7 linked regions of the Homo sapiens genome follow. The protein of the gene in region 7 interacts with the protein of the main gene of each other region in a pairwise test. Each region holds a gene or a part of one and is shown on either strand. Other genes may lie near its edges. The genes, in order: MRM1, LEUTX, NOTCH2NLC, SH3GLB1, REEP2, CISD2 and TTPA.

Region 1 (3,642 bases), on a different chromosome or scaffold from region 7:
TTGGGAGGCTGAGGAGGGCAGATCACCTGAGGCCAGGAGTTTGAGACCAGCTTGGCCAACACAGTGAAACCCCATCTCTACCAAAAAAAAAATATAAAAATTAGCTGCGCGTGGTGCACGCCTGTAGTCCCAGCCACTTGGAAGGCTGAGGCAGGAGAATCACTTGAACCTGGGAGGCAGAGGATGCAGTGAGCCAAGATCGCGCCACTGCACTCCAGCCTGAGCGACAGAGTGAGACCCTGTCTCAAAAAAAAAGGAGCATAGGCCCTTTTTAAACAACTTTAAGTGTTGCTCTAAATTGGCATTGCCATTATTAGAATTGAGACAAATCCAATGCAGATGGATTCCAGAGAAAAGTGGAGTACTATTTATTGAGCACCTAATACATGTGAGTTCCTATTGCCCTCCATATTCTCCCAACAATCCAGGAAGGTAGGATTATTCCCCTTTCGCCCAGGAGGGCACCGAGGCCCAGGTGGGTAAGGAGCGCCCCCCCAAGGTCACATAGCAGTCAGGATTGCAAGTTCGGGGTTGCTATCCTCCAAAGCCATGCTCCAGGAGGGGAGATTTTTGTCTCTTAGAAGCCATCTGGCAACGTCTGGAGACATTTCTGGTTTCATAATGAGAGGTCATGCTACAGGCATCTAGTGCGTATAGGTCGGGGATTCTGCTAAACATCCTACAGTGCACAGGATGGCTCTCACAACAAAAAATTATCTGGCCCAAAATGTCAAGGGTGTGGAATTTGAGTCCACCTGCCCTAGTGGTGATTCTCAGCCTTGGCTGCACATTAGACCAATGGTGGCGCTTTCGAAAGCCGGATGCCAGGTGGCGCCACACCCATCATGTCAGACTCTCTGGTGTCAGTGTTGGGTTTTTTAAAGCATGCCAGGTGGTTCCAATGTGCCACCAGGACAGAAACACTTCTATGCTCCTCACACTGCTGGCTCCTGCTGCTTTCCTGGGACCCGAGGGGAGGAGTGCCAAATCTGTCTCGGTTGTACAATCAACGGCAAGCCTGCTCCCAGTTCCTCCCCTTGAAGGGAACTGACTCAGTCACCCGTGGGGGGCCCCCGTGGGGTGGGAGGTGTTTGCTAATTTCCCGTCGCCTCTCATGGGGCTGCAGCCAGGAGTCTCCCCGCAAGGAGGCTGTGGAAGCTGCCTGAAGACTGGACCGAAGAGCGAGGCTGCCACCTAACGGAGGAATTGGCCAGAATCTCCCACGTGCTGAGTGATGTTTTATTTGAGCCTCACAACAACCCTGTGAGGTAGGTGCGGAGTCCCGCGGCACAGAAAGATGAGGCCTGCGCTCAAGGCCCCAGGGCGGGGCCGTGTGTGGGCCTGAGGTGCGCACTGTCTACTCCACATCAGGGCCCCGCCCTCCACCCCCCACATTCTCATACACACATTTGCCACAGGCAATGACTGGTTCAAGAGGAACGGGTCCCCTGGGCTGGGCTGCCTGCCTCTCTGCAGATGTCTAAACTTTCCCTCAACTTCCAGGCAGGGCCTGGGAACAGATTCCCTCCATGCTAGGCCATCATGGCTTCCCATGGAAATTAACAAATCACCATGTCCTACTACAGGTCCAACATCACAACAGGAAACAGCTTCCTCTGGTGTCCACCGCAGTCCCCTTCCCCCCCCCCCAGACTGTGGTCAATAAACATGGGCCTGGTGCACACTCAGGCAGAGGCTCCCCGCACACTGGAGCCGGCGGAGGCAGGTGCGGCCGTCCCTGACTCCAGCACATGAACACTGTGGACAGTCCACGTCAGCCCTCATTTTGCCTCTCTTTCTCTGGGCCTGAAGACAGCCCTGGGTGCTGAGCCATGCTGAGCCCTTCAGACCTGGCTGAGGGTTCTTGGGGGTCTTGGAGAAGCTGCCTTCTCTCCCCCTCTGTGGGGAAACCCTTCCTCTGGCTGCAAATGGAGTGAAGAAGAATTCCTGCACAGACACAAGGACAAGGGAAGAGAGGACGGAGGAGAAGGATGATGTTTAGAGACCTAGACATTCAGGCAGCCCCTCATCTCATCAACGGGATGTAATTTCCCCATTTTGTACATAAAGCAACTGAGGCACACAAACAGCCAGCAAATGGGATTAGAGGGCATCAAATCCCACCTGCGTGATTAGAGGGATAGAGGAAAGGGAAAGGGGAGTAGACTCACCTGCAGCCACAGAGACGTTCAAGGACTCAAGTCCAGGAGGCAGCTGGCGCCGGGGCAGGATGGTGAGGAGAAGCTGGCAGGAGGCCTGCACCTCCTGGGATAGACCTGAGCCCTCATTCCCTGCAGGGCGTGGGGCTGAGGGTTAGGGTTGCCCAGCTGGACACCCAGTTGCTCGGGAAATGTAATCTGGGCACAAACGCAGGGACATCCACCTACCCAGCACAAGGAGAGTAGGCCGTTCCCAGAGGAACTCCAAGCAACTCATGATGGGGATCTCGGAGGACTGGGGATCCTCTGTGCTTGGGCAGCCCACCGTGCCGGCCACGAGCCAGCCCTGCTGGGCTTTGGTCTGAAAGGGGGAAGAAGATATGTTCTAATTCTTTTTTTATTTTAATTTTGAGATAGGGTCTTACTCTCGCTCAGGCTGGAGTGCAGTGGCACGATCACAGCTCACCGCAGCCTCAACCGCCTGGGTTCTGGTGATCCTCCCACCTCAGCCTCCCAAGTAGCTGGGACTACAGGCACTCGCCACCCCACCCGGCTAGTTTTTGCATTTTTTTTTTTGAGATGAGGTTTTGCCATGTTGCCCTGGTTGGTCTGGAACTCCTGGCTTCAAGCGATCCTCCCACCTTGGCCTCCCAGAGTGCTAGGATTACAAGCGTCAGCCACCATGCCTGCCTCTCCTATTCTAATTCATCAAATCTTCATCAGAGGCTGTATGCAGTGGCTCAAGCCTGTAATTCCAGCACTTTGGGAGGCTGAAGCAGGCAGATTACCTGAGGTCAGGAGTTCAAAACTAGCCTGGCCCAGGCACGGTGGCTCACGCCTGTAATCCCCAGCACTTTGGGAGGCCAAGGCAGGGGGATCACCTGAGGTTGGGAGTTCGAGACCAGTCTGAACAACATGGAGAAACCCCGTCTCTACTAAAAATACAAAATTAGCCGGGCATGGTGGTGCATGCCTGTAATCCCAGCTACTCAGGAGGCTGAGGCAGGAGAATCGCTTGAACTCGGGAGGCAGAGGCTGCAGTCAACCGAGATTGCGCCATTGTACTCCAGCCTGGGCAGCAAGAGTGAAACTCCATCTCAAATTAAAAAAAAAAACAAAAAACCAGGCGCAGTAGCTCACGCCTGTAATCCCAGCACTTTGGGAGGCCGAGGCGGGCGGATCACCTGAGGTCAGGAGTTTGAGACCACCCTGGCTAACATGGTGAAACTCCGTCTCTACTAAAAACACACAAAAAATTAGCTGGGTGTGGTGGCACATGCCTGTAGTCCCAGCTATTTGGGAGTCTGAGGGAGGAGAATCGCTTGAACCCGGGAGGCGGAGGTTGCAGTGAGCTGAGAGCACACCACTGCCTCCAGCCTGGGCAACAAAGCGAGACTCCACTCTGTCTCAAAAAAAAAAAAAAGACTAGCCTGAGCATCATGGTGAAACTCTGTCTCTACTAAAAATACAAAAATCAGCCTGT
Region 2 (5,349 bases), on a different chromosome or scaffold from region 7:
CCCTCTCCTTCAGTGAAAATGATACTTCCTCAGAGACATCTTACCTTACCTTAAAACTACTGCACATCCTCTGAATCAGTGCTGTTGGTGGCATTCATAACACCAGTAGTATCATAATCAGAACTGCGTATTGTCTTGTTTCCTTTTTTATTTCCTGCTTCCCTCCCTAGAATGCCAGCACTTGGGAAGGCGGCAGTGAGTTCTATTTTTGTAAATCCCAATTTCCTAGTCACTGGAACAAATCTTAGCAGAGCAGGCATTCAAATAATTAAGCAAACAAATGAAGAAGTGTCAGGGGTGTTTTAACGTTAAGTTCTGCAAAATTCCCTGCTATTGGGGAGGTCATACCCTTTGAATATATCACTCTCTTTCCATCCTCATTAGTGTCATAGGGCAACTCCAGGGACTGATTCTAACATTTAAACGGAAAATTTGAGGCCCACTTTATCCTTTCCGATAGGATTTGGGAGTTTCTACCCTTGACTGTGTTAGAAGTGTTCCTGAATTTTATTCCTGTAAAAGACATAGATGGGGCCAGGTGCAATGGCTCACTAGCACTTTGGCAGGCCAAGGCTGGACGATCTCTTGAGCCCAGGAGTTGAAGGCTGCAGTGAGCTATGATGGCACCACTGCACTCTAGTCTGGGCAACAGAGTGAGACCCTAAAACAAAACGTAAAAAGATACAGATGGGTCCTTCAATCATTTGGCCTTCAGGCTACCTGCAATGTTCCCAGAGACAGAGTTCTTTCGCTAGTCCAAGACTTTTCCAAACCAACCTGGTGGGGGTGTGGAGGTTGCGGGAGAGGACAGAGTTGAGGGGTAGTATAAGATGGGCCAAGACCAGAGTCCCATCTCTGCTTCAGAAAGCTTGGGTCCACATTGAGTGTGGGGAGGCCATATCTCATGGATAGAGACTAGATCTGTCTAGTGAATTACACTCACCCCACAAATAAGACCCATCATGGAGAAGAACGTTAGGGGGAGGAATAAATAAATGAGTTAATAAGGTGCCTGAAAGGTGGAGTAAATGAGTAACAGAGGGACAGAGAGAGGGATGCTCAGAGGAAAGAAAGAAGCATGATTCTTTTAATGCAATTTATATTTTAAGTTTCCTTGCTGAAAACTCGTTATGGGCTCCCCAGCTGCCCCCAAATCCATACTCAAGAGAAGATACAAGATCCCCTATGGTTTAGGCTCTGCCAAGTTCTTCACTGTCATCCATTGCTGTCTCAACTGGAAGAGGTTGAACCGAGATGGGCGGGTGAAGGGCTTAACTCCCATCATCCCAAACTCCTAGCAGGATGCCTCCTGCTGCACTCCGGGTCTCACTGGAAGCCGTCCACGCACAGGGCACCTCCTTCACCTTCCAGTTTGAATCATCTTACCAACTTATTTTTCTCTCAGCGCCTTGTTTATTTACTCATTGATCCCAAGTGACATTTTTGAACATTTTATCCATTTTCAGTTCGCTCCACTTTCTTTTGTTTTCTTCCACTCTCTGGAGTCAAGGATCAGTCTTTTTTTTTTTTTTTTTTTTTAAACATAGTTTTATTCCCAGTGCCCTACACAGCATCAGGCATATAATAGGTTCTAAATAAACAGATATTGAATGGATTATTGGAGGGCGTGGTATTAGGGTAGGACAGGGTGGGGACATGATTACATTAAAATTCTGCTTAAATAAGCGGGTCTTTTAGCCCAGCAGTCACATAGACTCAGCTCAGGAGCTCTGCAGCACACAGCTGATCGAACCCACTCATTTCTAGAGGACACCATGTTTGGTAAGTTGGGCGAAGGCAAGAGGCTGGGGTTTCAGTGATTGGGTTGCAGACAAATCAAGTGAGAGGTGTGGGACCTTGTGGTGGCTTCTTAGAAACCACTGGGTAAATTTAGAAACCACTGGGTTATACCAACAAGGATTGTTTGAAAAACACTTTGCAAGGGATTCTAGTAACTTAGGAATTTGTTTCTCCACATCTCTTTTTTAAAGAGATGGGGTCTTGGTATGTTGCCCAGGCTGGCCTCGAGCTCCTAGGCCCTAGTGATCCTCCCACCTCACCCTCAGGAGTAGCTGGGACTTATAAGTGTGTGCCACCATGTCCCGCTAATTTTTAAATTTTTTGTAGAGACAGGATCTCACTCTGTTGCCTAAGGTCGTCTTGAACTCACATCCTTTTTAATGCCTGGTAACTTTCATACTTTTTAAATGTCAGTCCATTGATGGGTATAAAATAGTATGTGATCTTTAATTCCCATTTCTTTACTAACCCGTGTGATTGAATCTGTTCACTCTATTTTAAAGGCCATTCTGTTTTTCCCCTATGCTAATTTTTATATTTATATCATTTCCCAGTTTTTAGTATGTTTTTTTTCTTGAGGCTTAGTAGAATATTTTTGTTGTCTTCTAGACACTAATAATTTATCTCTTATATGTGTTGCAAATATATTCTCCCAGCCTGGCTTGTGTTTTTCAATTTACTTATGAGTACCGTTGTACAAATATTCTAAAAGTTGTCATTGTGATATTTATCAACATTTTCCTTTTATAATTGTACTTGTAAAACGTAGTTTAGAAGTATATTACTGGCTGGGCATGGTGGCTCACACCTGTAATTCCAACACTTTCAGATGCCAAGGCAGGCGGATCTCTTGAGGCCAGGAGTTCAAGACCAGCCTGGACAACATGGCAAAACCCTGTCACTACTAAAAATACAAAAATTAGCCAGGCATGGTGGCATGTGCCTGTGGTTCCAGCTACTTGGGAGGCTGAGACACAAGAATTGCTTGAACCTGGGAGGCAGAGGTTGCAGCAATCTGAGATTGCACCGCTGTACTCCAGCTTGGGCAACAGAGCAAGACTCTGTCTCAAAAACAAAAAAAGTGTATTTCTTGGCTGGGGACATAAATGTAATTTTAGTTACATTTTATTTTAACTTCTTAAAATGATTTGATTCTAATAGAAAAATTATGCATCAACAAGCTCACTTATCAAAACTTGTACCTGGCTCTTCTAATACATTTTCCTATTGTTTAATACTAAACTTACAAAAATACTAATTAGTCGATTTTACATATTGACCTCTCAGCTTGGTAGATGATTTTAAACTCAAAGCCACATCCTTCCTCGATTTTACCTCCTATAACTTATCAATGTGCAGTGTTGCTTTTCTAAAGACCAGTAGAATTCTAATTACCATTCCTTTGATGGAAATTCTACTTCCCTTTAGAAGCTTCTGGAAATTTCTATATATTCCTGGTATTCTGATATTTTTGCAACAACGATCCTTTTGTTCATTTATTGTGCTCATCGTGGAATGTCTTCATTCTGGAAACCCCTGTGCCTCATCTCTCAAATCTTGAATTTTTTTTAATAAATACTTTCATGATACTCTCTGAAACATTTTTTAGTCAGAGATATTTTTAGTCACATAAATATTGCTAGTGCTGGACATCCCTGAGCAGAGATCTTATTTTTTTCCGACCTTTTCACTCTTTTTGTCCACTTTTGTATACTTTTTCTACTTCCTGGAATAGCTTTGTCTTCCAACTCTTCTATTATTGCCTAAGGGTTTCTTTTTAGCTACTGATTTCAAAGAACATTTGTCTTATCAGATTTTCCTTTCTTTTCAAGACTTTCTTGATGTATGAGTGCAATATCTTTTATCCGAGCATATTAATTTTAACATTTATAGATTTTCTTTTTTTTTGTAATTTTTTTCTAATTGTTTTATATTTTTAGTAGAGATGGGGTTTCACCATGTTGGCCAGGCTGGTTTTGAACTCCTGATCTCAAGTGATTCACCCTCCCTGGCCTCCCAAAGTGCTAGTATTACAGGCATGAGCCACCGTGCCCAGCCTTATTTCTTTTCTTAAGAAAAAATGTGGTTATTTGCTGCTTTCCTCCTCTTCTTTCTTTTTCTCTTCCACTTTCCCTTTCTTTTTTCTCTCTTTCTCTCTGTCTCTCCCTCTCTCCCTTTCTTGCTGTCCCCTTCCTGTTTGAGAATTTTTCTTCAATGTCCTGTAAATTTTTGTTCTCCCTTTGTGTCTAAACAAATGCTGAGACACTAAGAGAAACCCATGTGCCCGATCACTTGTCTTCACTGTGCGATAATTGGGCAGCATGTTGGCTTCTGTTTTTCCATGTATTTGCATGAGGAATAAGAGCATCCTGAAAATAGAAACTTTCCTATAAAATAGATGACCATGAGAATCAGGTTTTACTAGATGATGAGGTCTTATTTATATTCTAAACCATAGTAAAAACTCCCATTATGCACTAATACAGTTTGCATATTTGTCCCCTCCAAATCTCATGTTGAAATGTGATCCCCAGTGTTGGAGGTGGGCCTGGTGGAAGGGGTTTGGATCATGAGAGCAGATCCCTCTGAATGGCTTAGTGCCATCCTCATGGTAATGAGTGGGTTCTCTATCTCTAAGTTCACCTGAGATCTGGTTGTTTAAAAGAGTCTGGGACCTTCCCCTGCTGTCTCTTGCTCCCACTCTCACCATGTAACACCTTGGCTCCCCTTCGCCTTCTGTCATGAGTGGAAGCTTCCTAAGGCCCTCACCAGAAGCAGATGCCAGCACTATGCTTTGTGTATAGCCTGCAGAGCTGTGAACCAATTAATTCCTCTTTTCTAATTTACCCAGTTTTAGGTAATTCTTTATAAATGCAAAATGGACTAACACATGCACCAAGCCTGTAATTAACAGACTTGCTTCTTTGGTTACTCACATCTTCCCTAAAGGAGTGAGCTTTCTGGGACCATGTTATTGTTAAAGATACGGAGGCAAACAGTATAAGTGTACTGATGCTGCCAAAGTCACAGAGCTAGTAAATGAGAGAATCGACATTCATTCTTAGGTCACTAAGCTTCATATCTCCTTCCCTACAGACCCCATTAATAAATGGCCAAACCAATAGCTTCAGGGTCTCACAAGCCAATCAACATAGACAGCAGTGCCACTGAGTCTATGACCGGTTAGGATAATAGGGCCTCAAATACTCTTATGAATCTTATAGACTCATATAAACCTGGTGTCAACATCATGCCACTATTCTATTCTATCTCAATAAGGACTCACCCAAATCTCATCTTGAATTGTAGCTCCCATAATTCCCATGCGTTGTGGGAAGGATCCGGTGGGAGATAACTGAATCATGGGGCGGTTTCCCCCATACGGTGCTCATGGTAATGAATAAGTCTCATAAGATCTGATGGTTTTATAAGAGGTTTCCCCTTTTGCTTAGGTCTCATTCCCTCTCTTGCTTGCCACCACGTAAGATGTGGCTTTGCTCCTCCTTGCTTTCCACCATGATTGTGAGGCCTCCCCAGCCATGTGGAACT
Region 3 (4,701 bases), on a different chromosome or scaffold from region 7:
GCGACAGAGCGAGACTCCGTCTCAAAAAAAAAAAAAAAAAAAAAAAAAGTATTAAATAATATGTCAGAAATGGGATTACTCTGACACATAGGGCTTCTTTTATTATAGGATCTCAGTGCATAAAACTATGCCCTCCACCTCTGCTCTGCTGAGGTGCTGCGATTATTAGCTAGCTTTTAGGTAGTCAAGTTGAGTGTTAGTCAAGTTGACTCAAAGGATAGGATTTAGATATTTTGATTTTTAGACAGGTGTTCTTTAGATGCTAAACTAATGCAGTAGAAGAGATTTAGAAGCCTGTTTCTTGGTACAAATCTTAAATCTTCTTAGAGTCTACAGTGAAGGCTTCTTGAATCCTCTTAATTTATTATTGTGTTTTGCTAAGGTACCAATTACAGCACACCCTTCTAAACTTTTGAGTGCTCCTGTGTTTGGCTTGTGGCCAATTGTTAATTTAAACATCACGGAGTTTCTAAGGCAAGGAGATGTTAGCAGTATGTCTGATTGTCTAAACAGCTATCCAGGACCATCCTCTTGCTCCTTGTTTTCTTTTGCTTTGCAATGGGAAGTGACTCCCTGATTTTGCTGCCTGCTAGATAATTTCTCAGCTGAATTCTTCTCTTAAACAAAATCGGAGTAATTTTCTTTCAGATGGTGATGAAATTTAACCTAAAACTATTTTTCCTTTCACTTTCTTATTATTCCTTTTTTTTTTGGTGTGGTGGAGAGGAGGAGGAGAGTGATTCCTAGTCTCTCTTATTTTTCTGAATGTTTAGATTTAAAAAATATTTACCCATAACTTCTTGGGATCTCTCTGCTCCATTCCCACCCTACTGCCTCTCCTGTAGGCTTCTATGACATAGAGAAGCAACTTTTGGTTCACCTGGATTGTAGTTGCTGACTTCAGGACCTTTAGAGAATGTTTAAATTCAGTGGGATATGCTTGGATGGTTCAGAGCAGCCTTACAATACATTTTAAAAATATCACACCCACAGAAATTCTATTTTGCCCACAAAATTTGCATTGATCTAGTTCCCACTCTGTGTTGCCATTCCTAGTGATCCTCCTCCCTACCTCTCCCATTATGGTAGAAAAAAACTCTGTGTCCTGGCTACATCAAAATCTGTTGGGGTGGATCTTGGACTCAGCACCCAGGGATTCTGATAAGGTAAGTTTGAGAATCCATATTTTTTCAAGGTTTACAGGTGATTCTGACAAGTAACTTGGTTGCAACCCACTGATTAAGTACATTTTTTTTTACCTTCAGGTGTGTGTATGAGGTCTTTCTAAATTTAAGAAATTTCCATAACAAATGTAACCTTAGTCATTCCAGTGTTTAACACTTCTGACTCAAGAATTTTAAAATTGCTGACGTAAGAGATATAGAATATAATGTCATTTCTTCTGTTTATCTGGGTGCAGTATGTCTGCATTGACCCTTTAGAAGGGCTTCATATATTTAGATGATATAATAAATTCTCCACCTCTCCTTTTCCCTTTTCTTCTGTTATCTCGTTTTCCTTAAATGTCATTCATACATGTTGTTTTTTGACCCTTTATCTATATACGTCTGCAATGATTTTAGAGTAAAAAACTGCAAGGCGTGATTTGAATAAGGATATAAGAAATTTTACATCATTTTCTTTATATTGTGTTCACAGTCCATAGTTACATGCTTCCTTTCTTGATGTCTCAGTTCGAATGCCTAAATTTGAACTATTAATTTTCCTTCCACCCTTTCCTGATTTTCCTGTTTTTGTTTCCCACCCTTTCTCTGCAAATGACTTGAAACCAAAAGGTCTTCTTTTCTTTCTTTGTCAGCCTACCATATGTGTAGTATTTTGGACAGATCACTGAACTAGGAGCCAGAAGACCAGAATTCTTCTCCAGGTCTGTTATTAATTGGTTTGGTGACCTTGTAGGAGAGCCACTGTTTTGGTCCTCCATTTTCTGATGTTCATTGTTCATGGTCACAGAGCCAATTAGAGTTGAGACTAGAATTCCTTTCTTCTGGTGTCCAGTGCCTCATTCACTGTCCACATTGCTTCCATCTCATGTACAAATGCGCTTATGTGCACAAAAACTCTTATAACATCCTCAAGTGCTTATTGTTAATGCGTACATGAGGAAGGAATCGTGTATTTTCATTTATGTGTTTATTCTAATGCCCATACCCTACCCCTGTACCTGGCATGATGCCTTGGTATCTAATAGGCACACAATAAATACTTGTTCAGTCGAACAATTATTTTTAGCCACTTTCTTATTTTGGACAACTGTGGTACTCCTAGACATTTTAAAAATAGTATTTGCAGGAGTCATGCTTACCTTACATTTGGGGAAAAACCAAATTTTTCCCTTCCCCAGATGTTTCATTTAAACTTGTAATTTTGAATTTCTTTGTGTGTGGGGTTTCTTTCTTTCTTTTTCTGATCACTTCTGCAATTTATAAAGGTCACTTTGACTTTGGAATCTCACTTCAAAGGCACTGCCACCCACCCCCTGCCTCTCACTCAAGTTTGCTTCCACTGCTTCCTGTATTACTGTATTACTAGGCCAGCAATTTCTGTTATTTTGTCCAGAATAGCCACACCTTATTGTAATTTCATCATTTTGGGGACTAGTCATTTTTGGAATACTATTTTTAAAATTAGAGTTAACTAAGTTTATATTTATTTTGATAATTTTTTTTGAGATTTTTTTCATTGAGTTGGATATTGCAAACTTGTACTGGATTGAGAGAATATGTACATTTAGTAAAGTATATTTGCTTTTTTTTTTTTGAACCAAGAGAGTCCCCTGAACACCCTGCTGACAAAAACTAAAGGTGAAATATGATGAATAAATATTTGAGAGAATCACATGGTGTTGAGTTGTCTCTGCCACATGATTTTGATCCTTGAGGGCCAGGTCTGTGCTACACACATTTCTTCTCTGTACTACAGAACTTGTCTGGCATGTGCCCGAAATTCAGAGTCAACTGAGCGGCAGGTCTTAGTCACAGCATCTATGACTCCTGCTTTCCCACCTTTAGAACATTCTATAGGAGAGGCTGATGGTGAGTTGGAGTGTGTTTCTATGTTCTTTTTTCCTTTGAAGAGATAGGATCAGTTGAAAGCTGACCCCACCCACAGACTTTTTTTGCTATCTCTTTTAATTAATTAAGGAGTGGCTGAAATTTTCCTCTTTGTTGACTTATGCATTGGCGGGAACTTTAAAATTCATCTAGTCTTTCTGTCCATCCCATGCTGGATCTGATGTTTACAACATTCTAGTCAAGAGGTACCATATTTTCTCTCTTCTTGAACATCTCTTGTGGTAGACAGCTCTCCACAGCAGTTTATTCCATCTTTGGCCAGCTCTAATTCTTAGAAAGATCTTCTTATATTCAGCTGTAATCCATCTCCTCATGACTTGTCCTCATTGACATCTACTCAGAAATTTGTCTCAGAGTCCTGAGACCTGTGCAGGTGATAGGGACCCAAAGAGATGCTTGTCTGTAGACTTTACTGGGCTGACACCCAGCTCTCCATAAAAGGAGTCAAACCCAGTGAGGAGCATGTCTGGGGTGATTGCTCAGGTAAAGCATCTTAGCCCTACTTGTTTCATACCTCCCTGCACAGGTGGGCACTGGTGGGAGAATCACATTTATCAAGCAGTGTTTCCCTAACCTCTCTTATGATAAGAATAGCTCAGGTGTTCTCATGGAGATTCTGATTCAGTGCATCTGGAATGTCATCTGGGAATTTGTGTGTTCAAGAAATAGCCAGGTGATTCTTACATTAGGAAAGTTTTAGAATCACTGCAGAGTGAATCTGGGAAATCAAAGTGTTTGTTTTTGTTTGTTTGTTTTTTGAGAGTATTAGAGACAGGTTGCTTTGGCTAGATCCTGTGGTCATTTTTCCCCCTTGGAAATGCCTCCTACTTGCTGGCCTCACTTAGTACAGAGAAGAAAGCTGCTATGGTATAAGGTTAGTAAAGTTGTTTGTTTTGTCTTAAAAGAAATTTGCGAAATCCAGCATTTTCGGACTTCTGTTTGTGTTGTATGACTTTGTTGTAAGCCTCCTTATTCCTCCATTAGAATGTTACCTGAGATGTTAGAATGCATAGGAGTTCCACAGCCTTTTTGGTGTCCACTAAAGAATTCTGTCCTCAGCCGTTGCAAATGGTGCTTCCTTTGAGGATTTCTGCTTCATTAGCTCATGAACACATATTTGGTGTCGGCAGTTTCCCTCAGATGTGTTAGTGTGGAGAGATATAAAGGTCACTCATTTCTGGTGGTCCTGCTTTTGGGGTTTCTGGGCTGCTGCAGCAAATGAAATAAGGAAAGGAAAATAAAGGAGGAATCTAGGGCTTCTTGAGCAGAACAAAACAATCTGCAAGAAGGGGCACAGGATTGCTCCTCTCACAAAGACACTTGATAATACTGTCCTTGATAGGAAGAAGGAAGTGGCTTCAGATCTGAAAGGATATGCTCATAGGCTTGAGACGGGACAAACTGCATCACTGGTAGTGGTAGGAGGTTTGCCGTAGATCTGTTTTTTCTCCTGTCTCTCTTTTTTGAGGAGAATATTATCTGTATGGCAGAACATACATTGTGGTCTTAAAAAGGAGAGTAAAGCCAAGAAAGGGGGATGATAAAGCCATAGCTTGGAATAAGAAAAGCAAAGGAATTATTGTATTAATTTGTGTATGTAAATACA
Region 4 (4,256 bases), on a different chromosome or scaffold from region 7:
AAGGCTTCTGGTACGTTTGTCTACCACAGAACCACCACAATATATATGCTTGTTCTTAGGTTTATTGCTTTTTATTTTAATGGGGTTTGGTTGTTTGGGTTTTATTTTGGTTTTGGCTTATTTTAAAGTCAAGTTTAGTTTTTACTCAGGTAAAGGCCTGAAGTTTCTTGGGCGTGGAAGAAAAAGCTTGGGAAGCCTATTAATTCATGGTGCAGTTCAGAATTGTTTAAATAAGCTCTGTGCCACTGAGCTTAATCTGAAAGTATAGTGACATGTGAAGGATGCACATATGAATGAAAAACTAAAATAATTGTAGGCTCTTCTATAAATGAAAAAAAAAGTGATTGGATTGTGTCTACCTTTTTCCTCAAAGTAATCTAACCTAAACGGTCATGGTGTTAAAACTTTTTATGGTGCTAATCAGAAAAATTGATGTTGCAAGAAATGAGGTCTCAAAAATGGGAATGTGCCTCCTCACTCTGCGTCACATGGGAAATAAATCCTGAGGCCAGGATCACCAGTGGGGTAGAGTCATCTTCATAGTCTCCTGTTATCCTCCCCCTGAACAAAGAACAAAGTGAGACTGGGAAGCTAGTGTTGGGGAAACATTTCTGGGATAAACTGTGGAGTGGAGAAGACAATGGAGGGCAAGGCAAAAACCCACAGACTTGTTTACCCATAGAGGCCCCACTCACCTCCATGCTGACAGAATTCCAGAAAAATTCCTTCCCTATCTCCCAAACACCTGAAATTCTGAAATATTGCCCTACTATTTAGCACTTTAAGCTTCAGTGAGGTGCTGTAATGGAGAGATAGCTTCATAGTTTAGCCTATAGCCAACTTTGCCTCAAGACCTCCAGATAAGATGAAGTGGCTTTTACCTCATGTGAGTCTCAAACGCTGGAGAGAGAGTTCCACAACCACCCCTGCCCTTTCTCCCATATTACGCTCATTAGAAAGTCTACTCAGGGCTGGGTGCCGTGGCTCATGCCTGTAATCCCAGCACTTTGGAGGCTGAGGCGGGTGGATCATCTGAGGTCAGGAGTTCGAGACCAGCCTGGCCAACATGGGGAAACCCTGTCTCTACTGAAAATATAAAAATTAGCCGGGCATGGTGGCGTGCACCTGTAATTCCAGCTACTCGGGAGGCTGAGGCAGGAGAATCACTTGAACCCCAGAGGCAGAGGCTACAGTGAGCCAAGATTGCACCACTGCACTCCAACCTGGGTGATAGAATAAGACTCTTGTCTCAAGGAAAGAAAAAATGTCTACTCAGTAGAGCAGTGATTGGCAAAGTGTGAGACCCCAGACCGGCAATATTGGCATCTCCTGGAGACTTGTTTAAAATGCTGATTACTATTTTCAAGAACTTTCTACCTTCATTTTTACTTATTTTTTGTTTTCAAGGGCTCATGGAATCAGTCTTCCATGTGACAGCTTTTTAAATATTTTAAGACAAAAACTGAGTCTTCTAATCTTAATTGTGTTCTAGCAGTAGTCATTGTAATTATAGTTATTTTTATAATTTATTTGTTTAGTGTATATCTGTCACTCTAGAATGTAGGCTCCCTGAGATAAAAACTATAATTCTTTTGATGGCAGTTACATTCCCAACTCTTAGCACAAGATCTAGGACATAGTATGAACTCAATAAATTTTTGTTGAATGAAAGAAAAATGCAAATTTATAAGCCTTTTCAGAGACCTACTGAATCAAACTCTGAGAGTGGAGCCCAGCAATCTGTTGTAAAAGCTGTTTGAGTAATACTGTTGCACTCTAAGCTTGAGAACCACTGCAATAGAACTAAGAGAACATTCATTTCACCTTCAGGCCTATTCTCTGACATCACTTGAAAAATCCTCTCTGCCTTCTGTAACCCTTAACCAACAACAGTGCCCTGTCCATGTAGGGGAAACTTCTGGGCTGTATTACAAGTGGGTAGGAAGGTATAAGGATATCATAGTGGGAAGTATTGCTTAGAATGCCAGTACTTGTTTGCTGTGGAAGGTTTCTAGGAATGGATTGCTTAGTCTAAAGTAAGCACTACCACCATCCACGTTTTCACTCAACACAGTGCCTTTTAATTGGTGACTAACATCAAAACACCTTGACAAACCGTTAAAACAGTATCAGAAACCATGTGTACATCCCTGTGCCTCTTAGATTGCTAAGTTCTGCTCTCATTCTTACTTCAAAGGACACTTTTTAAAGAATTGTTAATGCTTTTTTATAATACAAGTCATAGCCCTGTTGGCAAAAAGAAAAAAGATTCAGTGAGAAAGAAAAATCACTGATAATTCCATCATCCAGGGAGAACCACTGTTATTTAAGTATATGGCCTTCCAGACTTTTCTGTGCATTTATAGATATTTTTAATGGGATCAAAGTGTACATACTGTTTTGTAACTTTTTTTCACTCAACAATACCATGACTGTCTTGCTGTGTCAAGTATATTTCTACATCTCTTAATGGCTGCATGATATTCCATCATATGTGCCACATTTTATTAAACTACTGTTCAATTTTTAGGTTTCCAACTTTCATTAATAAAGTGCTTTAAAGAACATTGTGTTGCTAAATCTCGTATGTGTTCATATTTTCTCACGATAAATGCTTTGAAGTGGAATTGCTAGTGAAGAGGGTATGCCAGTTTTTAAAAGCTTTTGTTACTGCCATGTTGCCCCCTAGAAAACTCTAAGCAATTTATACTTTTATCAGCAGTATATGAGAGAATACTGTTTCTTTTGGAGGGCTTCCAACTAGAATGTTCTTGGAGTCTTTGGTTTAAAAATAAAGGGTAAGAGGGAGATAAAAAGATCCTGCAAAATTAAAGTCCAGTCTTAAATGTTTCTTAAATTATGACATTCATTTACTGTTCTTCCCTCTTTATCATATATTTTGTATTACTTTGGAAATGTTTGTAGTACTAGTTGCCTCTTGCTTTTATTCAGTCTCCTGGAAGCATTATTACCTTTCTGACATTTGCAAAGACAGTAGAAGAACAATCTTAAGTAGACTTGAATCTTGAGGTATCTTTGATGCAGGTGTACTGTTGATGGATTTAGGGAATGTAGCCGTAGTGGGGAAAGTAGGATTTTGGAAGGTAGGCAGAACAGTGGCTCTCCCACTTGTTTTCCTGGCCTTTTGTCAGTCATTAAACCTCTCCCACTTTGAGCCTGCTTACTCATCTCTAGAATTAGAATACTATAAACCTACCTTGTAGCATTGAAAGGATTAACCATATTATGAAGAGTGGCTGGCACCTAGTGGATAATATTATGGCTTACTAGGATTTATAGATGAGCATGTTAGAGCATTTGCTATTGTCAACCTCTGGAGTAAATATCACTGCCATTGCCAAAGAAAATCTTCCTTGAAAGCTGTCACAGTGAATGAGCATTGTCTTGTATATCCTTATACCTACGCAATCCTCATTCTTATGGAATCTGGCTCATTTTTTCCAGTCAGGTATTCAAGTAATGTAACCAGATAAAACTCTCAGACAAGATGTACAGTGGAAGATTTCAACATTACCATGCTTAACAACAGTGTACGAAAGTGGTAATCACAGTCTTTTTAAGTGGTAAACCTTGCCAAACTGCCCCTTCTGATACTCCCCCACCCTTGGCCCACAGCTGATCTCAGTGCTTCGGGGGGCTGTACCTCTATGTGAGAGCCTGACATAGGACAGGTGACTCAGCTCAGTAACAGTATTGTTAATTAGCTAAGTCTCAGTAGCATCTCCAGGACTGGAGATCACAGAATTGATTCATCCATAGTGAGAGAAATGTATTTAAAGAAGTATCTGAATTATAAAAGTTGCTCAGCAGTATTCAAAAAGATAGATGTCCCAGGGTTGAGCTGCAGTCATCATAGCAAAACCCCACAGACCAACCCATTTTAATATTTGGATGAACCATAATAAATTTAAATTAACATCTGTTGATTATAACTCAAACTGCTCAACCAATAAAGAATGAGTAGTAAGAGGACTTAAGGGGGTTGTAAGTAAGGAAGGCTATACAGGAAGCTTCAGGCTTACGAGAACAAGACGAATAGCTAATTGGAGGTGAGATGGACTACCATTATAAGCAACTTTTCTGAGAGTCTGATGCACCAGGGTTTAGGGCACATGTTTCTGCTCAGTCTCATGTTCTAGTAAAGTTCTCTGAAGCTTGAGCTGTAGTAGGCAGTTCCCAACAACCAGGCATTTTGATACCTGCTTGCCTTTTCTATGTATTTTCTTGTGTTCAGC
Region 5 (3,828 bases), on a different chromosome or scaffold from region 7:
CTCCTCCCATTCCTGACAATTTCATGGGGTCCTTGATATCTCCCCTCTCATGCCTAACTTGACCTGCAGAAGAACAGACATAGTAGTGCCAGGCGAGGGGGCTCACACCTGTAATCCCAGCACTTTGGGAGGTCTAAGTGGGTGGATCATTTGAGGTCAGGAGTTTGAGACCAGCCTGGCCAACATGGTGAAACCCCGTCTCCACTAAAAATACAAAAAAAAAATAGCTGGGCATGGTGGCGCCCCTGTAATCCCAGCTACTAGGGAGGCTGAGGCAAGAGAATTGCTTGAACCCAGGAGGTAGAGGTTGCAGTGAGCCGAGATCGCGCCATTGCACTCCAGCCTGGGCAACAGAGTGAGACTCCGTCTCAAAAAAAAAACAAACAAACAAGGAGTAAGAACAAACATAATCCCCATGTTTCTTTCTGGCGGCAGCCAGAGCCCCTCAGTGGAATTCAGGAAACCCGCTTCTGCCATGCTGCCTGCGACCTTAGGCAGGTCACAGCTCTCGAGGCCTCAGTTTCCTTATTTGTAAAATAGGCATATGATTCACTCCTATAAATGCTGGATACTTGCATTTCCAAGGCATTTTCCAGGCTGTACTAGACTACGTATGTATGAGCACTTTGAGGACAGGGAATATGTCTTAATCATCTGTATATTCACAGCAGGAACTCAAAAATGTTTACTGAATGATCAGATACCTCTTGGAAGAGGGGACTAATAACACAGTTCATCGGAACTCAAGAAGAGAATTTTACCAAGGGGGAGAGGACAAGAGATCATTACATTTATAGATAAGACCCTTGCATTTGAGAAAAATAGTTTTAGAAGAGGAAAGAGATGGAGAGATGGGTTAAAAATTGAGGGTAAAGGCCGGGTGTGGTGGCTCACGCCTGTAATCCCAGCACTTTGGGAGGCCAAGGCAGGCAGATCACGAGGTCAGGAGATCGAGACCATCCTGGCCAACACGGTGAAACCCCGTCTCTACTAAAAATACAAAAATTAGCTAGGCATGGCAGGGCGCAGTGGCTCACACCTGTAATCCCAGCACTTTGGGAGGCCGAGGTGGGCGGATCATGAAGTCAGGAGATGGAGAGCATCCTGTCCAATACGGTGAAACCCCATCTCTACTAAAAAACAAAACACAAAAAATTAGCCGGGCGTGGTGGCGGGTGTCTGTAGTCCCAGCTACTCTGGAGGCTGAGGCAGGAGAACGGTGTGAACCCAGGAGGCGGAGCTTGCAGTGAGTCGAGATCGAGCCACTGCACTCCAGTCTGGGCAACAGGGTGAGATTCTGTCTCAAAAAAAAAAAAAAAAATAGCTAGGTATTATGGCACCTACTTGTAATCCCAGCTACTTGGGAGGCTGAGACAGGAGAATCGCTTGAACCCAGGAGGCGGAGGTTGCCGTGAGCCGAGATCGTGCCACTGCACTCCAGCCTGGCAACAGAGCAAGACTCAGTCTCAAAAAAAAAAAAATTGAGGGTAAAGGCCGGGCATGGTGGCTCCTGCTTGTAATCCTGGCACTTTGGGAAGCCAAGGCAGGAGGATCACTTGAGCCTAGGAGTTTGAGATCAGCCTGGGCAACATAGCAAGACCTGCCTATTAAAAAAAAAATTGGCCAGGTGCGGTGGCTCATGCCCATAATCACAGCACTTTGGGAGGCCAAGGGGGGGCAGATCACCTGAGGTCAGGAGTTCGAGACCAGCCTGACCAACATGGTGAAACCCCTTATCTACTAAAAATACAAAATTAGCCGGGCGTGGTGGCACATGCCTGTAATCCCAACTACTCAGGAGGCTGAGGCAGAAGAATTGCTTGAACCCAGGAGGCAGAGGTTGCAGTGAGCCAAGATTGTGCCATTGCACTCCGGCCTGGGCAACAAGAACGAGACTCTGTCTCAAAAAAAAAAAAAAAAAAAAGATGAGAGTAGGGCAAGGGTGGTGAGGTGAAAAACAAAACTGAGGGTAGTAAATATAGATGCCTTTTTTTTCTTTTTCTGAGATAGAATCTCACTCTGTCATTCAGGTTGGAGTGCAGTGGTGTGATCTCGGCTCACTGCAGCCTCTACCTCCTGGGCTCAAGTGATCCTCCCACCTCAACCTCCTGAGTAGCTGGGACCACAGGCACACGCCACCACACCTGGCTTATTTTTTATTTTTTGTAGAGATGGGGTTTTGCTGTGTTGTCAGGCTGGTCTTGAACTCCTGGGCTCAGATGATCCTCCCACCTTGGCTCCCAAAGTGCTGGGAGATTACAGGCCACTGTGCCAGGCCTATACATGTGTCTTGACACAGCAAAAGAGAGAGCTTTGATGAAGACTTTGTGAGGACATAGGTGACCTGAAGGAGTTTGTGACCAGAGGAGAAGGCACTATGGGGACTGAAGGGCAATCCTGGAGAAGTGAGGGTCGTGTCACGGTGGGGCAGGAGGGTCCAGAGCAAGCTAGAGAAGTCCCAGGCCTCTCGATGATAGGGAGGGCAGAAAGGGAAGGAGTGAAGACCCAGGTGTAGGCCTGCACAGTCAAGAGTTTCCCTTGGTGTTGACCCTAGGGCAGAGGAAGGGGGGTTTTCTCTAGGAGTGAGAGGGCTGGGGCTTGGGGAGAGGATGAGGCCAGGAGAGTCGCTGCTGGGGGAAATTCCTTCTAGTGTCACTGCTTACCTTCCTGTTTGGAGCTTCAGCTGAGCCCTCCAGACCCTTTCAGATTAGAAAGGAGCAGTCCCATGAGCCCCATGGGGACCCCAGTGCACTAAGAGTGAGGGGCTGTGCAGGGTCACACATGGGGCCGGTGCTGCTGGACACAGGGCACCTCCCAACTCCCTGCCCTGTACTCTGCGCTTGCCCCTGTCCCAACAGGTTCCCCTTCTACTTTGAACTGAAGATCGCCTTCGTGATATGGCTGCTGTCCCCTTACACCAAGGGCTCCAGCGTGCTCTACCGCAAGTTCGTGCACCCAACGCTGTCCAACAAGGAGAAGGTTTGCCCCCACTCTCAGCTCACCTCCCAGCCTGCCCCCAGCCAAGGCAGTCCAGAGCCTGCAGCCTCATACAGACTGGCCCTCCCTGTGGGGCCCAGAGCCCAAAGTGACTTGGCAGGGCTGCCGTGGCCTCCCGGAGCAGGCAGGGGCCTCTGTCCAGGGGTGAACAAGGGTAGGGCAGGACCTCTCCTCTTCTCCCTTCCCCTCCAATCCCATAGGAGATCGACGAGTACATCACGCAGGCCCGAGACAAGAGCTATGAGACCATGATGAGGGTGGGCAAGAGGGGCCTGAACCTTGCCGCCAATGCTGCAGTCACAGCTGCCGCCAAGGTGAGATGGGGGCAGGCTCAGACTCCCAGGGCCCCTACCTTGTACAAAGGGCCCTGGCCAGGCCCCTTTGCATCCACCCTGTACTCGGGGCTGTAGAGACTCTGGGCTCATGCAGCTGGAGGCTCCAGTCCAGGCTCTACTGCTATCTGGCCGAGTCACTTTGATTGTCCGGCCATTTCCCCATCTGTCCCCAGAGGCAAAGTGTGGCCCTGCCCCAGCCCTCAGCTCTGTCTGTGTGGGACTGGGTGAGGACAGTGTGGGGAGGGCACCGAGCCTGGGGCTGCTGCCAGCACCATGGTGACCTCTATCTCCACCCCGCCCCTTCCCCCCGGCTCTCCCGGTGCGTGGTGGTGACCCTAGGGCCAGGGGGTGCTGTCAGAGAAGCTCCGCAGCTTCAGCATGCAGGACCTGACCCTGATCCGGGACGAGGACGCACTGCCCCTGCAGAGGCCTGACGGCCGCCTCCGACCCAGCCCTGGCAGCCTCCTGGACACCATCGAGGACTTAGGTACAGGCA
Region 6 (4,701 bases), on a different chromosome or scaffold from region 7:
TTAAGAGTCTAACATTAAGGTTTTCAACCAGGCATGGTGGCTCACACCTGTAATCCCAGGACTTCGTGGGGCTGAGGCAGGCGGATCACTTGAGGTCAGGAGTTTGAGACCAGCCTGGCCAACATGGTGAAACCCCATCTCTACTAAAAATACAAAAATTAGCCAGACGTTGTGGTGTGCTCCTGCAGTTTTAGTTACTTGGGAGGCTGAGGCAGGAGGATAGCTTGTGCCCGGGAGGTGGAGGTGGTAGTGACCAAGAGCACACCACTGCACTCCAGCCTGGGCAATGGAAGTGAAACCCTGTCTCAAAAATAAATAAATAAGATTTTCATCTTTGCGTTCCCATTCACTCGCTTTTTGATAAATTTAAGCTCTTATGACTTCTAAAATATTGTAATATGTACAATAATACTTAATGTTATTCTACATTGAACAAACATTTAATGACTGCTATTTCGAGTTACATACTGGATGCTGGGGCCAATTGCAAGCTAAGATAATTAGTCAGATAAAACAGAAGGAACTCCATATGCAAAGAACTCAAAAAGGCTGCTTACTAGACAGTAGCTTTCGCTGGCCTCAGGTACATGAAGAGACCATGTTTGTGGAAGTTGAAGCTGGAAAGGTAGCCTTGCCATTCTTTGGAGATGGCACCTTATAGAGCCAATGATCTATAGTAGCATTGTCCAGTAAAACTTTGTGGTAATGGAAATGTTCTCTGTACTGTTCAATATGGTAGTCAGTAGTCACATGTAGCTAGCTATTGAGCCTCTGAAAGGTTACCAGTGTGTCTTAGAAACAGCATTTTACATTTTACTTAATTTTAATTTATTTACATGTGAATAGCCACATGTGTTTGTTTTGTTTTGTTTTGTTTTTGAGACAGAGTCTTGCTCTTGTCACCCAGGCTGGAGTGCAATGGCATGATCTCGGCTCACTGCAACCCCTGCCTCCTGAATTCAAGCGATTCTCCTGCCTCAGCCTCCCAGGTAGCTGGAATTACAGGCGCCTGCCACCACGCCTGGATAATTTTTTGTATTTTTATTAGAGACGGGGTTTCGCCATGTTGGCCAGGCTGGTCTTGAACTCCTAACCTCGTGATCTGCCCTCCTCAGCCTCCCAAAGTGTTGGGATTATAGGCATGAGCCACCACGCCCACATGTGTATATTAACCGTGTTTTCAATTTTCTGTATTTTATTATGCTTTAATATCTTAGGAGCCTTGTTGGCTGTGGAGACAATTTAATTCCTAGAGATACTAAATAACTTGCCTGTGAGCATGCCTTTCATATGCAAACCAACCAATCCAAAGCCCATGCCCCCAACCACCTCCTTTATCTAACCCTTACACATGAAGTCAGTATTTCTCCAGTCAATATTTCTCCTGCCCTAAGTCACCCCAGGGACAGGTAGGAGACGACTAGGGACCACTACTTTTGCCCAGAACCCACTGAAATTATTCAAGCTAGCCAGTCCTGAACAGTTTCCTGCCTTGCCTTTTCCATGGAAACCACAGTAAAGGCCTGTGCCCATGCTTTTTCCCTTTCCTCTTTCTTCCTCCTGATCAACCCTAGTACCTCTCATGTGGCCCTGCATTGCATAGTGTATCCTCTCCTCTTGGGAACTATAAGTAATAAACTGTTATTTCAAGACAGTTTCTACAAGTCTGTTGGGTACAAATCTAAACAGTATGGCTAGTGGTGCCCATATTGAATAGCACAGATCTTATACCTAGGCCTCCTTCTCCCCGCAAAAACAGTTCTGTGTTATCTCCAGAGCTTTAATTCACTCAAAGAACCTATTTGGAGTGTCTCCACTTTGGTTATGAGAATGTAACAGCCAGCATGGCAGACAAAGTTCATACTTTTACAGAGTTTTATTCTGGTAACTACAAGATTATATTCCTGAAGATTTTTGCCCATATAGCATTGTCAAGTTATTTGGCAAAATATTTTTTTCAAAGGAGTTGCTAGTACTTCCTCACCAATCTCTATAATCTCTGAATAAAAGCTACCATTTATTGTGTCTTTTTTGCCAGCCACTCTTATAGGTGCTATCTATGAAAATGGTAGATAAATAGGTTTTTTCATTTAGATTTCTTTGGCATGATGTTATATCAAAAATAATTCCATTTTGGAAGAGTTCATATTGTCTTTCTTTCAATAGTTAAATAGTACTATTATCTCCTGAGAGTAGTTTTACCAAGATAGGCACAGATTTTAATTTTAGATCTATTGGGTTTGATTCATGATAACTGACAACAGGCTTTGGATTTAGGGTGTCCTGGACTAAACCTGCTTAGGCTACAGTTTTCTCACATGTAAAATGGGGATAATAATGATACCTACCACATATAGTTGTTTAAGCTAACATAGTGTTAAATGAGCTAGTGCCCTTATACTCTTAGCATAACCTGTTCATTTATCTTTAATGTTTATTAGCATGAGTTAGCATATTATTTTCTGTTTTTCTCTTTTCTCAACTAAGCTATTTCCACATAGTGCCTAGCAAGGTATCAGATTCGGCATTCAGTGAAGGAAGTTAACTGGTAATTCTATAAGAACAGAAAAGAGCCCAGCAGAGGCAGGGTGCTAGCAGACATTTGATAAATGTATGTTGAAATGTTTATCTTGGTTTCCTGGTATTTTTGTGTCCACATGCATAGGGACTGTTTCATTTGTATCACTTATATTCCCTGTCCCCTTAAGACAGGCTAGGTACTCCAAAAGGCTTTAAATGAAGTTTATGGAATTAGATATATCTTAAAATGAGAACATTCAACATAGAAGGTTTCAATTTGTTCTTTAAAATAGTAGCTTTTACACAAAATTTCAGTGTTCTTTAGCAACATTTACCAAAAATGTACCTTAAAGCATCAGAGGACATGTTCTCTCTGATATTATGAATCAGTGGTAAAAATTCTGCAGATATTCTGTTGTATGATTTTGACATAGTATTAAGGAGATAAAATGTTTTCTTAACTTATAAAATATACATTGAATTTTGTTTATAGTTATAGTGATCATAACTCCTAAAATAAAAATAGACAAACACAAATAGACTTGATGTAGACAATGAGATAGGATATTTGAAATGGAACCTATTTCTGAAAAGTTAGGTTTCTAGTTTCACTGGTCTCAAATTATAAATAAAGTAAGGTGGTCTTTGGTAGAGCTGGCTTTATTGTGTTATTTATTCACAGTTTTATGGATCCATTAAAAAGGAATTAATGTAAAAAGTAACAAAGAATAAGCTCAAGGATGAAACTAGACATGCTATTTTGAATTCTTTTCCAAGAGCACTGCAGATTCTGACACATCTACATGTTTAGTTTCAGAATGGCTTCGGTTATTGCCTTTCCTTGGTGTACTCGCACTTCTTGGCTACCTTGCAGTTCGTCCATTCCTCCCGAAGAAGAAACAACAGAAGGATAGCTTGATTAATCTTAAAATACAAAAGGAAAATCCGAAAGTAGTGAATGAAATAAACATTGAAGATTTGTGTCTTACTAAAGCAGCTTATTGTAGGTGTTGGCGTTCTAAAACGGTAAGATGTCTGTTTACGTGTACACTAAAATTTTGCAGTGCTAGGATTGTTTCGCCTCTTAAATCCCCAGTTTTGAAGTTCTTTAAGATGAGAGAATTTTCTGTAATATTTGGTATTGAAAGACCATATTCCTAAATTGAAGTTTTCATGTCATGATAGATACTACCTACATTAGAAAAGTTGGAGCAGCAAAGAAGAATAAAAATCTAATGCCTTCGCAATGTTTGGCATTTATGTAGAGTAACATGTATTTTAAAATACACATTCTTTGAGAGAGGACCTAAGGTTTAATGGAAAAAAGCTTTGGTGTCATAGTAAATAGTGGTCAAATATACTTGTCACAGTATGAGTTTGGTTGGACAAGTTACTTAATTTTTAATCTCTAATCTTCAGGGTTTGTTTTAACCTGATACATCCACATTACATATCTTTGAGAAGTGAGATGATATATGTAAACTGCTTTAATAATATGAGGTAGTAAATGATAGCCTCAATTATAGATGATTTTTAATGTGGGAAGGAGTTTGGAGTGATAAGTACTATAAGTAGTTGACAAAATCTGTTTCTTGTACTTGATCATAGATTATTTGAGGTTTTTAATACAGTATTGCTCATCACAGCATCCTTTGTAATAGCAAAATTTTTATAAACTAAATATCTGATAAAAAGGGAATGATCATGTTTTTAAAGGATATATAATGACATGAGATCCTGATATGAGTAAGAAAGCATATTACAGTGTGATCCCAATTTTGTTTAAAAAACGAATACACGCAGGCCAGGCGCGGTGGCTCACGCCTGTAATCCCAGCACTTTGGGAGGCCGAGGCAGGTGGATCACCAGGTCAGGGGTTCAAGAACAGCCTGACCAACATGGTGAAACCCCGTCTCTACTAAAAAATACAAAAAAAATTAGCCAGGCGTGGTGGCATGCACCTGTAGTCCCAGCTACTCAGGAGGCTGAGGCAGGAAAATCACTTGAACCCAGGAGGCAGAGGTTGCAGTGAGCCAAGATCACGCCACTGCACTCCAGCCTGGGCGACAAGGTGAGACTGTCTCACAAAAAAAAGAAAAAAAAGAATACACACAATAAATGCATAGGAAAAAATATACCAAACTGTTAATTATTATTATGTGTATCTGGATGGGTTATGAG
Region 7 (4,701 bases):
TTTTTGTCATTAACTTTTTTTCCTAAATTAAAAATTGATTAAAAAATATAATATATCAATGGAACAATAAAATGTCACATAAGTCTTGGTAGGTGTATATTGATATCTTTTTTTTCCAAAAGGTTTTTAAAGTGGTCATCATCTTTGACTCAGTAATTCTATTTCTGGGAAACTAGCTAAGGAATAATCTTTAATATATTAAAGATTGCGTATAATAATAATAGCTTACTATGTGCCAGGTACTTTGCTAAGTGTTTCAAATGCATTATCTTTTAATGTCCACACTGAGCCTATGACATATGACTATTGTATTTTCCCACTTTACAATTAATAAACTATATCCGAGAAGTGACATAGCGATGCCCAGGCACACACAGTTTGCCAGTAGTGAAGTGAGAATTCCAGCCCAGGTCACCTGAATGTAAAAGTCGTGCTTATAACCACCACTTCTCCTATACACAAAGACAGTTACTGCAGCATCAATTTCAGTAAAGAAGTAAAATAAATAGTTTATTAGTCCAGAAAATAGAAACATGGTTACTTAAAAAATGTACATTCATTTGATGGATTCTTGCAACAATAATAAAACATGATATTTGCAAAAGCTGTATTGTATCAGTGGAACACAACGGGATGAAAATTATTTAGAAAGTATATTAGCAATTATGTTTAAAAGAAAATTATGCATAGAAGGGATTTGGAAGGACAATCCCCAAATTAATAATACATCTCTGAAAGTGATGCATGGAAAAAATAAAAGAACTTCACATAAAAGAACCTTGGAATGAAAGGTCTCTGTATTAATAATACAACTTGTAGGTAGGAAAACCATCTTTTTCCTTCAACTCTTAACTTCTTAAACTTTCTAAATAAGCCTATATTACTTTGATGCTAAAGACATATACCAATGTCAAAGTTTAAAAGTGTGTGTTTATTGTGCTAGTCTTTCAATATTTGTGATTTTTTTTCTCAAAATAAACATTTTTTGGGAAAAAGTTAAATATAAATTTCCAAATGACTCATTGGTTCGTTAAAAGAACATCTATATGTGATGGGAAAGGAATTTTCTGGTGAAAGTGTGCAGATATTTTGTAAAATACTTTGCCAAATCTATAAGGAGAAACCTTTTTAGAGATCTTTACTTAATCTAGTGACAGTGAACTGTAAGCCAGGCTTTTGTGCTGATGGAATAAATAATTTTGAAGATAAAATCACACACTTTAGATATTTCCATAAGCTTAGCAAGTGTTCAAAGAAGAAACTTGACATTAGGTATCAGATTGTAATATTTATGTTTTGTTATTAAGATTTTTTTATTTTCAAAAGGATTCATTTCCATTGAAAGTTCGTGGCATCCATTTGATAAATGAACCAGTAATTTTCCATGCTGTCTTTTCCATGATCAAACCATTCCTGACTGAAAAAATTAAGGAACGGGTGAGTAAAATATATTCAAGTCTGTGTTCCTCTACACCAAACATTCCAACCCTTTTTAATTTAAGGATTGCTTTATCATCTTTCCTCGTACCTGCCCATCTATATCATTAGCCCAATATTTTGAATATTTATCTAACAAGCCAACTAAAAAAAAGTAAATTAAAATTTACTTTTAATTTATAAAAATCAAGTATATTGGTTGTAAGACTGTGGGGTAACTGGGCTTTTCATACACTGCTGGTTGGAATGCTTAATGGTATATTCCTATAGAGGGCAGTGTGGCAAAGACATCAAAATCACTGTCTTGAATTACCTATACCTAAACAAAATTACATATGCTAGAGGAGTCACAGCAGCAGAAGACTGAAAACCAGGAAGTGTTCACCATTAGGGCATTGGTTAAATAAACATCTACACAACAGAAAACAACGAGATTGCAGGATGTTTTGTAAACTGAAATAAACAAAATGTGGAATAGTGTTTATGGCATGCTACCTTTTGTATACAAAGGGGAGAAATAAGAATATATTTCATAAATTTACATTAAAAGGATATACAAAAAATAATATAAGTGGATATCTATAGGGAACAAGAGAAGAGGTGTGAACTACAGTAGATGAGAATAGGTTTGGGAGCAAGATCTCTCACTGTGTATCTTTTATCTTGTTTTGATTTGTAACCATATGAATTTATTATTAATGCAAATAAAAATAAACATTTTTCTTAAACAGTGAAGCCTACTTAACGGTTTCAGTGTAACTGAGAACCACGGTAACTGAGGTATATGACTTAATGTCATGCTAGTTAGAGCAAAGATACTGGATTTTTTCTTCTTTACCTAGCCTATGGAGCCTTATCTCAGAAAAAGCATCTCATATATCTTAGACTTTTTGAAAGGTTGAAAATAGAGTCTGCGTTCTCAAGAATGGCAACCATTCTAAACTAATCTGTAAAGAAGAATTTTTAGAGCATCTATTTAGACAAACATTGGCATCATCTAATGCCTTGAACACAAAACAATTTGTAAAGGTTTTAACAGTTTAAATCTAAAAAATCACTGAAATGTCAGCAGTGATAATATAAACTGTAATAGCACATTTGGAATTTTAGAAACGATGTTCTTTCATATTAAGAAAATATAACATCTTATACCTGGTCAGAAAGTTATGACCCTAGAGCTTCTTTAGAGGTTATGCAGTGGATGCTTCTGTTTGTCTTCAAGAACCACCCTTAAATTGCCTGCTTTAGCAAAAATGGCCACTTTCAGCTACTTTTCATTCTAGTATTTTTATACAAATCAATTTTGTTTGTTCATTTTTTTCTCTCTTCAGTGTAACTTGATAATATCTGGCTTCCCTCTGTTTAATTCTTAGAGATCTAAAAATAACTATTTCTATTTTGAGTAATATTTTAGATAAAAACAAAAACAAGAATAAACTGAACCTAAGAAATAGGAGAATATGGAGAAAAAAGCAAAAGTAAAAAGTTGAGAAGTTAGGGGAAGGATGTCAGTGAAAGTTAGTTGACGGGAAACAGACTTGCCAAAATAGGGAGAAAAAAACTCTGATCCAGCCACTTTTTTCCTTTTTAACTTTTTGGCAATGCCCCATACATTTTCTTATTTTGCCCCTTCCTGAGGAGATAGAATTTCTTCTCAATTACCTGATAATATTTTACATATTTCAGAAAAAATTAAAGATTGGCTTTGTGAGTTTCCTAAGTGAGTATAGGAAACTCATTTCATCCATCAAACCTCATATCCCAGCACATAATAGATGCTTATTAAATGATTGTTGAATACATAGAGGAACATTTTGCCCTAGAAAGTGAAAAAAGGTTATTTATTTATTTTAGCAGGTATGCTTTTGGTTCAAGTTTCTACGGCTTTCTCTTAACTTCAGGGCATTCTATGATCAATTTTATAGTTTAAAATATTTGAAAAGTTAAGGTTCTCAACTATCATAATTGTTTTTTAATACTTTTTTAAAATTTGACTTTTTAATTCTTTTAATTCTTTTTTTTTTTTTAGACAGGGCCTCACTTTGTGCAGTGGCACGATCTTGGCTCACTGCAACCTCCACCTCCTGGGCTCAAGCAATCCTCCTGCCTCAGCCCACCAAGTATCTGGGACTACAGTCCTGCACCACCACGCCCAGCTAATTTTTGTATTTTTTTTGTACCAGCCATGTTGCCCAGGCTGGTGTTGAACTCCTGAGCTCAAGTAATCCACCTGCCTTGGCCTCTCAAAGTGTTGGGATTACAGGCATGAGCCACTGCACCCGGCTGTCTCTTAACTTTATACTAACTAACAGTATCCATCGACTGTACCATATAAATTGTTTCTCATAGATTTAATTGTGTGCTCAGATATATGCTTCTACTTAATATGAATTAGTACCAGCTAGTACATTTTTATCGTGTATAGAATAGTCCCAAGGTATTAGTTTGGTAAGAATCACTTGCACATAAGGGAATAGAATTTATAAAATAACTTTATTTAATCTTTAAAAATTTACTTATGAAAGAGGAAAATAACTTTTTATAAATTTTATGCAGTTATAAGAATGCAAATCCAAGAAACAGTAAGGTTATTAGATCCACAGTAATACAACCTAAACATAAGTAAAATTATTAGATTCATAACCAGAGGAATAAAGGATGTGGTATCTATTTATACACTCCATTTTAGAAGTTATTAGAATACCTTGTTTTATGAGGTTGATTTTCCACTGGAAATGCATCTAATGCGGTTTCCTTCTAAAGTGTTTTGGCTATTTCAGATTCACATGCATGGGAACAACTACAAACAAAGCTTGCTTCAGCATTTCCCAGACATTCTTCCTCTGGAATATGGTGGTGAAGAATTCTCCATGGAGGACATTTGTCAGGAATGGACAAATTTTATAATGAAGTCTGAAGATTATCTCAGCAGCATTTCTGAGAGCATTCAATGAGAAGTTATGTCATGTGAATGGCTTCCTAACTAAAAATACATGAGTGATATCCAACCTGGTTAAATGAATGAAAGAAAAGGAGCAAATCTTTTAAACTAATGCTTGCCTGAACTTTAAAAATGTAGAAATCTTCTGACATGAGCAACACAGGTGTTTGGAAAGATTTTTTACTTTTTAAATGCTTTTTTCTCTACTTTTGAAGTAATTAAATGTCAGTACATTTTAAGAGCATAAAAATCGGCGATTTTGTACTTGAAGAGAACATGAAAGTTATTGCTAAAGTAGCTGCTCATGTGCATCTTTGTATGTT

What was found.
Region 1: the proteins of TTPA (region 7) and MRM1 interact in binary tests that used the Homo sapiens proteins (3 or more experiments, as listed by UniProt).
Region 2: the proteins of TTPA (region 7) and LEUTX interact in binary tests that used the Homo sapiens proteins (3 or more experiments, as listed by UniProt).
Region 3: the proteins of TTPA (region 7) and NOTCH2NLC interact in binary tests that used the Homo sapiens proteins (3 or more experiments, as listed by UniProt).
Region 4: the proteins of TTPA (region 7) and SH3GLB1 interact in binary tests that used the Homo sapiens proteins (3 or more experiments, as listed by UniProt).
Region 5: the proteins of TTPA (region 7) and REEP2 interact in binary tests that used the Homo sapiens proteins (3 or more experiments, as listed by UniProt).
Region 6: the proteins of TTPA (region 7) and CISD2 interact in binary tests that used the Homo sapiens proteins (3 or more experiments, as listed by UniProt).

The regions. Positions count from the first base shown.
Region 1 is NC_000017.11:36,606,548-36,610,189, reverse strand, and holds the end of MRM1 (rRNA methyltransferase 1, mitochondrial precursor), read right to left. Parts: intron 2,521-3,642; coding exon 2,388-2,520; intron 2,292-2,387; coding exon 2,172-2,291; intron 1,948-2,171; coding exon 1,775-1,947; 3' UTR 1,226-1,774; downstream 1-1,225. UniProt on the Homo sapiens protein: S-adenosyl-L-methionine-dependent 2'-O-ribose methyltransferase that catalyzes the formation of 2'-O-methylguanosine at position 1145 (Gm1145) in the 16S mitochondrial large subunit ribosomal RNA (mtLSU rRNA), a universally conserved modification in the peptidyl transferase domain of the mtLSU rRNA.
Region 2 is NC_000019.10:39,777,146-39,782,494, forward strand, and holds the start of LEUTX (paired-like homeodomain transcription factor LEUTX), read left to right. Parts: upstream 1-1,708; 5' UTR 1,709-1,775; coding exon 1,776-1,782; intron 1,783-5,349.
Region 3 is NC_000001.11:149,393,047-149,397,747, forward strand, and holds part of NOTCH2NLC (notch homolog 2 N-terminal-like protein C), read left to right. Parts: intron 1-4,701. UniProt on the Homo sapiens protein: Human-specific protein that promotes neural progenitor proliferation and evolutionary expansion of the brain neocortex by regulating the Notch signaling pathway.
Region 4 is NC_000001.11:86,745,618-86,749,873, forward strand, and holds the end of SH3GLB1 (endophilin-B1), read left to right. Parts: 3' UTR 1-2,567; downstream 2,568-4,256. UniProt on the Homo sapiens protein: May be required for normal outer mitochondrial membrane dynamics. Required for coatomer-mediated retrograde transport in certain cells. May recruit other proteins to membranes with high curvature. May promote membrane fusion.
Region 5 is NC_000005.10:138,441,557-138,445,384, forward strand, and holds part of REEP2 (receptor expression-enhancing protein 2), read left to right. Parts: intron 1-2,858; coding exon 2,859-2,979; intron 2,980-3,197; coding exon 3,198-3,311; intron 3,312-3,671; coding exon 3,672-3,819; intron 3,820-3,828. UniProt on the Homo sapiens protein: Required for endoplasmic reticulum (ER) network formation, shaping and remodeling. May enhance the cell surface expression of odorant receptors.
Region 6 is NC_000004.12:102,881,885-102,886,585, forward strand, and holds part of CISD2 (CDGSH iron-sulfur domain-containing protein 2), read left to right. Parts: intron 1-3,164; exon of another isoform or gene 3,165-3,331; coding exon 3,332-3,546; intron 3,547-4,701. UniProt on the Homo sapiens protein: Regulator of autophagy that contributes to antagonize BECN1-mediated cellular autophagy at the endoplasmic reticulum.
Region 7 is NC_000008.11:63,060,942-63,065,642, reverse strand, and holds part of TTPA (alpha-tocopherol transfer protein), read left to right. Parts: intron 1-1,326; coding exon 1,327-1,437; intron 1,438-3,466; coding exon of another isoform or gene 3,467-3,652; exon of another isoform or gene 3,653-4,217; coding exon 4,218-4,391; 3' UTR 4,392-4,701.